Linked DNA regions of Homo sapiens. The protein of the gene in region 2 purifies or fractionates together with the protein of the main gene of each other region. This does not show direct contact. Each region holds a gene or a part of one and is shown on either strand. Other genes may lie near its edges.

Evidence for each region.
Region 1: the proteins of BAZ2B (region 2) and EPB41L1 purify together in Homo sapiens (co-immunoprecipitation; one large-scale study listed by IntAct). This does not show direct contact.
Region 3: the proteins of BAZ2B (region 2) and SMARCA1 purify together in Homo sapiens (co-immunoprecipitation; one study listed by IntAct). This does not show direct contact.

Annotation. Positions count from the first base shown.
Region 1 is NC_000020.11:36,161,209-36,164,862, forward strand, and holds part of EPB41L1 (band 4.1-like protein 1), read left to right. Parts: intron 1-3,654. UniProt on the Homo sapiens protein: May function to confer stability and plasticity to neuronal membrane via multiple interactions, including the spectrin-actin-based cytoskeleton, integral membrane channels and membrane-associated guanylate kinases.
Region 2 is NC_000002.12:159,385,958-159,389,611, reverse strand, and holds part of BAZ2B (bromodomain adjacent to zinc finger domain protein 2B), read left to right. Parts: intron 1-126; coding exon 127-267; intron 268-3,004; coding exon 3,005-3,259; intron 3,260-3,654. UniProt on the Homo sapiens protein: Regulatory subunit of the ATP-dependent BRF-1 and BRF-5 ISWI chromatin remodeling complexes, which form ordered nucleosome arrays on chromatin and facilitate access to DNA during DNA-templated processes such as DNA replication, transcription, and repair.
Region 3 is NC_000023.11:129,513,399-129,517,052, reverse strand, and holds part of SMARCA1 (SWI/SNF-related matrix-associated actin-dependent regulator of chromatin subfamily A member 1), read left to right. Parts: intron 1-555; coding exon 556-722; intron 723-1,058; coding exon 1,059-1,159; intron 1,160-1,265; coding exon 1,266-1,366; intron 1,367-3,654.

The DNA.
Region 1 (3,654 bases), on a different chromosome or scaffold from region 2:
AGGAAATTTTCAAATTCTCTTAGGATGCTCTAAGCTGCTGCTTGGGCTGTGCAGCTGCCCACACCCAGACTGTCCTTGGACAAGCTTTCTACCTTCTCTGTACCTCAGTTTGTCCATCTGTCTGGTGGTGATCAGAGCCATTGCTGCCACTGAGTGTCTTCTATATGTCAAATACTGTGCTAGAGCAAGCTTCATGTGCATTATCTGTTTTTCTATTTTTTCTTTTTATTTTATTCTTCTTATTTTTTTGTTTGTTTGTTTTTTGGGTTTTTTTGTTTTGTTTTTGAGATGGAGTCTTGCTGTGTTGCCCAGGCTGGAGTGCAGTGGCAGGATCTCAGCTCACTGCAACCTCCGCCTCCCCGGTTCAAGCAATTCTCCTGCCTTGGCCTCCCAAGTAGCTGGGATTACAGGCACGTGCCACCTGCCTGGCTAGTTCTTGTATTTTTAGTAGAGACAGGTTATCACTGTGTTGGCCAGGCTGGTCTCGAACTCCTGACCTCAGGTGATCTGCCTGCCTCAGCCTCCCAAAGTGCTGGGATTACAGGCCCAGTCGTTATTCTTGTTTTTTTAAAGACAGCCTGTCACTCTGTCACCCAGGCTGGAGTGCAGTGGCATAGTCACAGCTCACTGTGACCTCAAACTCCCAGGCTCTAGTGATCCTCCTGCCTCAGCCTCCTGAGTAGCTGGGACTACAGGTGCACCCCACCATGCCCGGCTAATTTGGGGGGGGCACAGGGTAAAGACAGTGTCTCGCTCTGTTGCCCAGACTGCTCTCAAACTCCTGGGCTCAAGCAATCCTCCCTCCTTGGCCTTCCAAAGTGCTGAGATTACAGGCGTGAGCCACCACACCCTGCCTATCTCATTTAATTCTCACTATACACCTTGGAGGTGCAGGGGATAGTCTTCTCAATAGAGGTTAAGTAACCTGCCCAAGGTCACCAAGCCTGTGGCATCAGGATTCCAGCTCTGGCTCATAAGCCCATGTCTGTAACTGCTGTTTCCTGCCCACTCTCAACAGTGGCTAATTGGTGAGGTCCAAGCAAAATGATTATAAAAAGATCCTTTAAGTTGTAAAGTGCCCTGCATGTGGGAGGGATTGATACTGCCGTTATTATTTCTACATCCAGAGCAACAGTAGCTTTGGTTATATGGCTTACAGCAAGTTGGAGGTCGTGGGATGTAGCAGCATTGAGTGGGGAGAGCACTGGACTGTGAGCCAGCAGACTTGAGTCCTAGTCCTGGCTCTCCTTGAAACTGACTAGCCATGTGGCCTTGGCCACTAAGCCGCCTGGGAAATAAGCTCACCTACTCCGTGTGGCCCTTGTGCAGCTCAAATAAGATAAAGCCCAAAAGACAGCCAGCATGTTGCCCAGCTCTCGGAGGATACCCTGCTAACGGGAGGTCTCTCTCTGCCTTCTGCATCGTCATCAGGATGGGCCAGGTGGGACGCATGTCTCCGTTTTAATGCTGTTACTCTGCAGTTCTGTGCTGTCACGTGGTCCCCAGCCCACCACTGCACATCAGCCTGAGGCTCCCTAGTGGCCCGTGAAGCTTTTGGGCAAGAAGCCAAGGCTGATGGGTGGTGGCCTTTTCACATTGTTTGGTCTAAAGTGGTGTCCGTGGGTACTGCAAACCTCTGACGAATTGCCGTCTCCCCACTGCCATGTACAAATCCAAGCACCAGACAGGATGACTGCAGACTCAGCTCCCTTTTTGATCCTTCTTGCCTGGCTGTGAAAGTGGCTTGAGGTCTCAGAGGCAGCTCTCTCAGCCTGTACCCTCCATCCTTTCATTCACGTCCATGTAGACATTATCACTCAGGGAAGTGAGTGTTCCATACTGGGGAAGTCCCCTTGGGAAGGAAGTCACATCATCTCCAGCAAGTGAGAGAAAGAATAAGCCCTAATAGGCACTCTTTCTGTTTTTTTTTTTTTTTCTTGTAATTCTTCTTTTTTCTTTTCTGACTCCGAAAGTAATACATGCTCATAGTAGAAAATTGAAAAATACGGAGAAAAAGGCCCCTATTTCCTTCTCCAAGGGAAGGCTATTGTTAACATTTTAGTCTTTGGACTTAATTGGAGAGTAATATTTCTGGAGCAAATATTTCTAATATTCTGGTATGTGTTTAGTGTTTTACAGGCATGATCTGATTCCATTTTCACAGTAAGCCTGTGAGGTATGTAAGTTTATCATCATGACTTTACAGATGAAGAAACTGAGGCACAAAGAGGTTAAGGGGCTTCCTGACGGTTCCCTTGCCTTCCTTGACTTCTTAGCTTATTCTGCCTCTTCTCAGGCTCCCCTTATCCTAAGTGAGCATCAGGTGGTGGATCAGTCAGATTCTGACAGGAAACAGAATTCCACTCAGATGCTTCACCTGAGGAGATGTTAATAAAGATGTGAGCAGGGTGAGGGGAACCCACATGGGATGGTGAGGCACCCACAAACTAACAGTGACAGAAGGCATTACTAGCTCTCGGCCTGAATGAGCAGGAGGGAGTGGTGTTACCTGAGTTCCGTGACTGGTAGAGGTGGGCAGGGAGCTGTCGCAGAGGGGCTCAGCCACCACCAGGACCACAGAGAGAGAAATTGGGGAAGATACACCCAGGATCTCTCTCCTTCCACCTTCTGAATTCCTGCCAGTGCCTTCTTCTTTATTATTTTTTTTTTAAGACAGAGTCTCTGTCGTCCAGGCTAGAGTGCAGTAGCATGATCTTGGCTCACTGCAACTTCCACCTCCCAGGTCTGCCTCAGCCTCCCTAGTAGCTGGGACTACAGGCGCCTGCCACCACACCCAGTTAATTTTTATATTTTTAGTAGAGACAGGGTTTCACCTTGTTGGCCAGGCTGGTCTCAAACTCCTGACCCCAAGTCATCCACCCACCTTGGCCTCCCAAAATGCTGGGATTGCAGGCGTGAGCCACTGTGCCCGGCCCCTGCCAGTGTCTTCTATTGGCCAAATGGAACCAGAAACCAGGAGGCAAGGGAGCTCAAGGGACAGTCCAATGGGCCAGCCTCCTGCTTCTTCAAGCAGGTCATGGATCTGGGGGTGCACATGGAGACTAACAACCCAAGCGACATGGTTGTAGGGAGATGGGAGAGACATGTCCTCTGACTTCCCAGAAAGAGTTGTCTTAGTAACTGACTATTAAAAACATCATTCAAAACAAGAGACTTTTTTTCTGCCTGGGAGTCTCTTGGTGTTTTGGTGTCTCCTCCCTCCCCTGCCCCCCATCTCCTCTCTCACCTGGTTCAGAATTTCCAAGAACACCTGGGCAACAGTCTTTGGTGTCATCGGTGTGCAGGGTTTAGAAGAGACAACCTTGCTTGCATGATACATGTGGCTGTGTGTGTTCTCATGTTGTTTCACTGCTGTGCCTATGCATACAAAGACATGCTTCTTGTGTACATGTCATAAGCATCTATAACATAGTCTCCTCTGTATCCAGCAGAATATTCACTTTTTATTTATTTATTTATCTAATTTTATTTTTTTGAGATGGAGTCTTGCTCTGTCTCCAGGCTGGAGTTCAGTGGCATGATCTCGGCTCATTTCAACCTCTGCTGCCGAGGTTCAAGCAATTCTCCTGTCTCAGGCTCCCGAGTAGCTGGGACTACAGGAGCCTGCCACCATGCCCGGCTAATTTTTGTATT
Region 2 (3,654 bases):
TATTTTGAAAATTAGAGAGTAAGATTAATGAAAAGCAAAATAATTCAATGTTGCTACATAATTCTAAGTTTATTCCAACATATATAATGATTAAGAAGAATATGTGTACATGGTTTTCTTTTTAAGGAAAAAGAGCGGTTGAAACAAGAAAAACGTGATGAGAAAAGATTAAATAAAGAGCGTAAACTAGAGCAGCGAAGATTAGAATTAGAAATGGCAAAGGAACTAAAGAAGCCTAATGAAGACATGTGCTTAGCAGACCAAAAGGTAATTTATACGTCATGTACACCATTTCATTCATAAGTTTAATTTTTCCAGTTTTCTTACCTGATTTCTTTGCCAGAGCTGCTATTGTGAAAGCCTTTCATTTTTAACTATAGCAGTGAATTTCCAACTCTAGGTCAATTTGCCTTTCCTAGATAGCTAGAAGTAAACCTCTCTGGAGCTCTTGTGCTGGTAATGGCGGTTTTTTTGTTTGTTTGTTTGGTTGGTTGGTTGGTTGGTTGGTTGGTTGGTTGTTTTCAGACAGGGTCTTACTCTGTCATTTAGGCTGGAGAGAGGGCAGTGGCAGGATTATAGCTCACTGAAGCCTCAACTTCTCGTTCCCAGGCTCAAGTGGTCCTCTCACCTCAGTCTTCTGAGTTGCTGGGACCACAGGCGCTTGCCACCATGCCTGGCTAGTTTTTTGGGTTTTTGTTATTTTAATTTTTTGTAGCGGCAGACTCTTATGTTGTCCTGGCTGGTCTTGAACTCCTGGGCTCAAGTGATACAGCCACCTCAGCCTCCCAAAGTTCTGGGATTCCAGGCACAGAAAAATCTCAACTCCTCCCCACATCCCTATGGATATTTAAATAAATGAGGATTTATAATCTGTGACCTCCTTCAGTGCTTTAGGTGGCAAACCTTTATTGAACATGTTTACTACATGCTAGGACTGTGCTAAGCACTTATTTGAATTTTCTCATTTAATCCTCAATACAATCTTGTGGAGTTAGTATTTCTTCCCATTTATACATGAGAAAACTGAGACACAAAGAGGTTAAGGAACTTGCCCAAGATTACACAACTAATAAATGGCGATTTGGATTCAAACTCCAGTTTGTTAAACTCCAGAGCCTATACTGTTTATCATCCTGAAAGCCAAGAAACTGTGTCCAACCAAAGCACCTCATATGTGTTTTGTCTTCCATAGTGCTTCACAGACATGTAATGTTGCTGAAATACATAAAAGTATAAATTTAGAAACATTGCTGTAATCTTGGCAACCAGCATAATTTCATATACTTTTGAGTAAAAATCAATGATGTTTTGACTATAGTTAAGAAGATGGTACTTCTAGAAAAATATCAATAATGCATTTCATCTCTATATTATTATACTTAATTAGTAGGATATGTATTTACTTATATGCAATATTCAAATGATTTGCAAATAATGATTATCTCTTGATTTATGTAAGCTCTTTTTTTATTTTATTTTATTATTATTATACTTTAAGTTTTAGGGTACATGTGCACAATGTGCAGGTTAGTTACATATGTATACATGTGCCCTGCTGGTGTGCTGCACCCATTAACTCAATTATGTAAGCTCTTTTCTAAAGTGCTTAAAGAAAACTTTTAGTACTCTAGAATGGATTGAACTATATTAATATTCTATTTATTTACTTAGCATAAATGCTTCTAAATAAAAATGAGAGTATACTTACTAGTTGTAGTCATTTGGATATTTAAATTTTCCTAAGCAGAGAATGGGTATATAAATTAGTTAACACATTTAATAAGCTCATAGTGATCAAGCTTTTTAAATCCTAAGTGAGCTTCATTTTCTTGTATCTTTTATTTTCATTTAAATTCATATGTACTATATCAAATATGTAAGTCCATTTTAAGCCATATTTTTAATAGCTCAGCTTTGCTACATAAATTTTTAGAATTACATAGAAATGTATATGTTTCCTGTGGTTCAAGAAAAAGGGAGAATGAGAATTAACTGGCTTTCAAGAAGAATATAAAATATTTGTATGAGATGAGCTATTATCTATAGTTTTGTGTTTCCACACAGTATTAACAGAAAAAGTCTTCAATTGGTTACCTCAATAAATGCAGAGTGGAGAAATATTTTTGAACAAGGACCAATTCAGATAAATAGAAATATTTATGTCACTTTTTTTCCAATTAAAATTTAAAGTACTTTTTTAGGCTCTCATTAACAGGCAAAATGTTTTTAATTCAGATTACCTATTTATTGAAATTTTAAAATGTTGATGACAACTGGTACTGCAATTAAGTCATTAAAATGTTAATATGTGAGCATATTTGAGAAATAACAACAGAGATAGCTAATTTTAATACTGAAGCTAATACTTGCCTAAATACAGGGAAACCTAAAGACCTTTAGTTGCATTATAACTGGGTTTATGTACAGGGTCATGGATTCTAGTTATGTGGACCTAGTTATTTATCTGCATTCATTAGCCATAGATGGTACCACTTTCTCCAACCATAGAGCCCACAGATGCATGCTGTTTGTTTCTAAGCTACAAAAAAAGTGTGATTTTTAAATGTCATCATCATTAGAAGAAATTGGTGCACATGCCCCTATAAGTATGTCCATGGTAAAGTACTTTTGAAATGTTTATATTTTATTTAATTTTTGCTCCAGTTATATAATCCATGTTTTGTTAATATGGATATGTCAGTTGATTGAATATGCAAGTTGATTAAAATTAATGTCTCTTTTGCAAAGATCTAAGTTCATAATTGAGTTCAACCAAAATTTATTAATGGTTGCTTACTTGTATGAAGATACTTCAAGACACTATGCTTAGTTCCATGGGGGTTACAGAAATGCCCCCAGAGAATTTAGCATCCCAAAGGAAGCTACTGGTACAATACAAGAGGGGAAAAAAGGTAGCAGCTTATTTTACTTTAGAAGATACGAAATCATGGCTTTTAAAAAATTAAGCTGTTTTTATTTTATTTGTATTTCATTTTATTTTCAGCCTTTGCCAGAGTTGCCTCGTATTCCAGGACTTGTTCTCTCTGGAAGTACATTTTCAGACTGTCTCATGGTGGTGCAGTTCTTACGAAACTTTGGTAAAGTTTTGGGCTTTGATGTGAATATTGATGTTCCAAACCTGAGTGTTCTTCAAGAGGGATTGCTAAATATAGGGGACAGCATGGGTGAAGTACAAGACTTGCTTGTGAGGCTCCTCTCAGCTGCTGTATGTGATCCAGGTCTAATAACAGGATACAAGGTAAAAAAAAACAAAATATAAAATGTTTTAAATTTGTACTGTCAGTGCATTGGTAGATAGCTTTAGCATATTAGCAGAAGATTATATAGATTGATCTAATTTTTCCACATAATGTCTCACAAAGTTAACTGTAGATTTGTGTCAGGTTACACTTCATACAAAGAAAACCTGGTTATAAAGCTTAAGGAATGTAGACCATTCTCAAGTTATTCTTTTTTCCTCTAGCTGTAGGCAAAGACCAAGGTGATTTAAGGAAATCCTTAAGCGATATTCATCAACAACAGAATTCATAATTCATAAGGCAACTAGAACTTGTATGTGCCTTCTGATATTATACCTTGTTCTCTCTCAATCACTGTGAATAACTGAAGCTAATCAAGGCACCTACAGACCAG
Region 3 (3,654 bases), on a different chromosome or scaffold from region 2:
TTACTATACCATGACACTGAAAATATTTTGAGACAAGATGATACTGTATTTTAAGATTTAAGTTATTTCTGGATACAACTTGGAAATTCTTAAGAGTTCAGTTTATGGTATATATATCATAGTTAATTTATATTTCAATATTTGGGATATGTTATATATTTGATGCTTAATTTTGTTACTATTTTATTTAATAAAATGATGTTTTGGAAAGAGGATTTGCTTTATGATTATGACTCTTTAAGAAGGGTATTTCTTATTGGGGAATTTACTGTCTGTCAGATAATTTTTCTTCCCTTCAAACTATTTGAAAATACATTTTCAAATTCTGCTGCTTATTAGCTGTGCAAGGTTGGGCAAATTACTTACCCTCTCTGTGCTTCAGTATCATGTAGTTACAATGGAGATGATACTTGTAATTACGTCATAGGTTTCTTAAGAGAATTGAATGGATTAATGTTTCAAGTGCTAAGAATGTTGTTCAAAGTAAGTATTTGTTAAATAACTTTGAAGGAATGAAAAGGAAAGTCCTTACTTTTCTTTTGTTTTGCAAATTAGAAAGCCGACCGAGCAAAGAGATTTGAATTTTTACTGAAGCAGACAGAACTTTTTGCACATTTCATTCAGCCTTCAGCACAGAAATCTCCAACATCTCCACTGAACATGAAATTGGGACGTCCCCGAATAAAGAAAGATGAAAAGCAGAGCTTAATTTCTGCTGGAGAGTATGTTGGCACCTCTCTCTCTACTTTCTTTCCTTTCTCCTACCTTTTCTTCCTCCTGTCCTCCCTTGATCCCTTCATGCACCCCTTCGCTCTTCATTGTTCAGTATACCTTCATGTGACAAAAAATATTGCCATTATAATTATGTTTTGAAGACAACTATATTTTTTTCTCACTAGAGGCTGATCAGTAAAAATGTAGGCTGGTTCTACTGATTTCTAAGCAAGACCTTGGACAACTCATTCTTTTTCTATAAAAGATAATAGCCATGTACACTGATTTAATTGATACCTTATCATTTAGGTCGAATATGAAGGGATTTCCTTTTTTAATTTCAGCTACCGCCATAGGCGCACAGAGCAAGAAGAAGATGAAGAGCTACTGTCTGAGAGTCGGAAAACATCTAATGTGTGTATTAGATTTGAGGTGTCACCTTCATGTAAGTACTTCATCACATTGGTGAGTTCTTTTTCAATTTAGTTTTAGAAAAATTTTACTTGAGTATGTTAATGAAAGTATGAAATGTCCTTGCATTTTTTCACCAGATGTGAAAGGGGGGCCACTGAGAGATTATCAGATTCGAGGACTGAATTGGTTGATCTCTTTATATGAAAATGGAGTCAATGGCATTTTGGCTGATGAAATGGTAAGGAATTGGTAGCTAAAAACACATTCTCAGTTATCAATGATTTTTATGTAAATTTGAAAAACCTGAGCTTACCTGCCCCCCTGATGCCTGGAGGCTTTTTAAAAGTTGTTATCATGTAAAAGGTATTTTGTAGTCTTAGAATTATTATTATTTTTTTGAGAGAGGATCTCTTTGTGTTTCCAGGCTTGAGTGCAGTGGTGCAATCTCGGCTCACTGTACCCTCGACTTCCTGGGTTCAAGCGATCCTCCTGCCTCAGCCTCCTGAGTAGCTGCGACTCCAGGCACGTGCCCACCACACTGGGCTAATTTTTATTTTTATTTTTAGTAGAGACAGGTCTCGCCACGTCACCCACACTGATTTTGAACTCCTGGGCTCAAGCAGTCCTCCCACCTCGACCTCCCGAAGTGTTGGGATTACAGGTGTGAGCCACAGCACCCAGCTAGAATTGTTTCGTTAAGTCACCGCTAGAACACAGACTTTCACAGGCCATAAAACTCTTACTGAGCTTTCCTCAAATGGTCCAAAAACCTTCTCTGTACTTTTGTTTTTGTTTGCATTTTGGCTTCCAGGAAGCACAGAGTCAAGATGGATGCCCAAATGATGCCTTTATGTAACTTTTTTTTTAAAATTTTTTGAGATGGAGTCTCGCTCTGTCACCCAGACTGGAGTGCAGTGGCACGATCTCAGCTCACTGCCACCTCCACCTCCCAGGTTCAAGCAATTCTCTGTCTCAGTCTCCTGAATAGCTGGGGTTACAGGCGCCTGCCACCACGTCCGGCTAATTTTTTTGTATTTTTAGTAGAGATGGGGTTTCACCGTTTTGGCCAGGCTGGTCTTGAACTCCTGACCTTGTGATCCACCTGCTTCGGCCTCCCAGAGTGCTGGGATTACAGGTGTGAGCCACCCCCACCCTGGCCTTATGTAACCTTTAATGGTCTGCCCTGTGTGTCCTTCTGTCTTTTCCTATTCTTTATCTACTTGTCTTTCTTACTTTCCTTGTCGTCTCTTTATTTCTATTTTGCCATTAATTTATGTTCCATGTTTTCATTGTAGGCTACCTGAAATCCTTTTGGGAATAAGGTGGGGTATACAAACCAAACAATATGTAAATGACTGCCTGAATATATGCATGTGTGAATGATTATCAATATTTTGACTTGTGAACAATCAAAAAGTGCATAGGTGGAATAAGGAACGAATAAAGAGTAATGTTGAATCTTGATACAGTACAGTGCATGGTGGGGCTTTGGAAATCAGTGAAGGAGTTATAAATGTGTAAATAAAATAACTGAACAGGAAAAAGTAAGGCATATAAGATGCTAATTCATCAGCTAAAGGGGGAATACATGAAGGCTTTTTTTTTTTTGAGACGGAGTCTCGCTCTGTCGCCCAGGCTGGAGTGCAGTGGCATGATCTCGGCTCACTGCAATCTCCTCCTTCTGGGTTCATGCCATTCTCCTGCCTCAGCCTCCCGAGTAGCTGGGACTACAGGCGCCCGCCACCGCGCCCAGCTAATTTTTTGTATTTTTTTAGTAGAGACGGGGTTTCACGATGGTCTCGATCTCCTGACCTCGTGATCCTCCCGCCTTGGCCTCCCAAAGTGCTGGGATTACAGGCGTGAGCCACTGTGCCTGGCCCCATATTTGTATTTTAAGACCAAATTAATAAAATGCGATTTAAGAGAGGGCAGGGAAAGTTCTAAATCCATATAACTCAATGATACTCATATTTATGTGACTCTGAAACCATACTTGTAATCACTATTATCCAGAAGAGCCACATGATGATACGTGCCCTATGGCGTCTAGTATAGTTGGTAGTCAGTCGCATAAGTACTCATCCCTGGTTGAGCAACTGTTAGGTGTGTGGCAGAGGATCCCTTAAAGCAAGGGTCTGTAGCTCCTTATATTTAGGTATTCTAGTTTGAAGACTGTTGTCAGCTCAGAGGGGGAGGAGCTTGGTTAATTGGACAATGGAAGGACCAGGATTATTTGCCCCAAGCAGCTCTTGGCTTCAGCCTGTCTAAACATGAAGGATCTGATCTTTAGTGATGAATTTGTGCTGATATCAGATATATGTATTATATATATAATATATAATATATAAATATATATAATATATACTTACTTTTTTTAATATATATATATAATTTTTTTTTGAGATGGAGTTTTGCTCTTGTTGTCCAGGCTGGAGTGCAATGGCGTGATCATTGCTTACTGCAACCTCCACCTCCCGGGTTCAAGCGGTTCTCCTCCCCCAGCCTCCCAGGTAGCTGGGATTACAG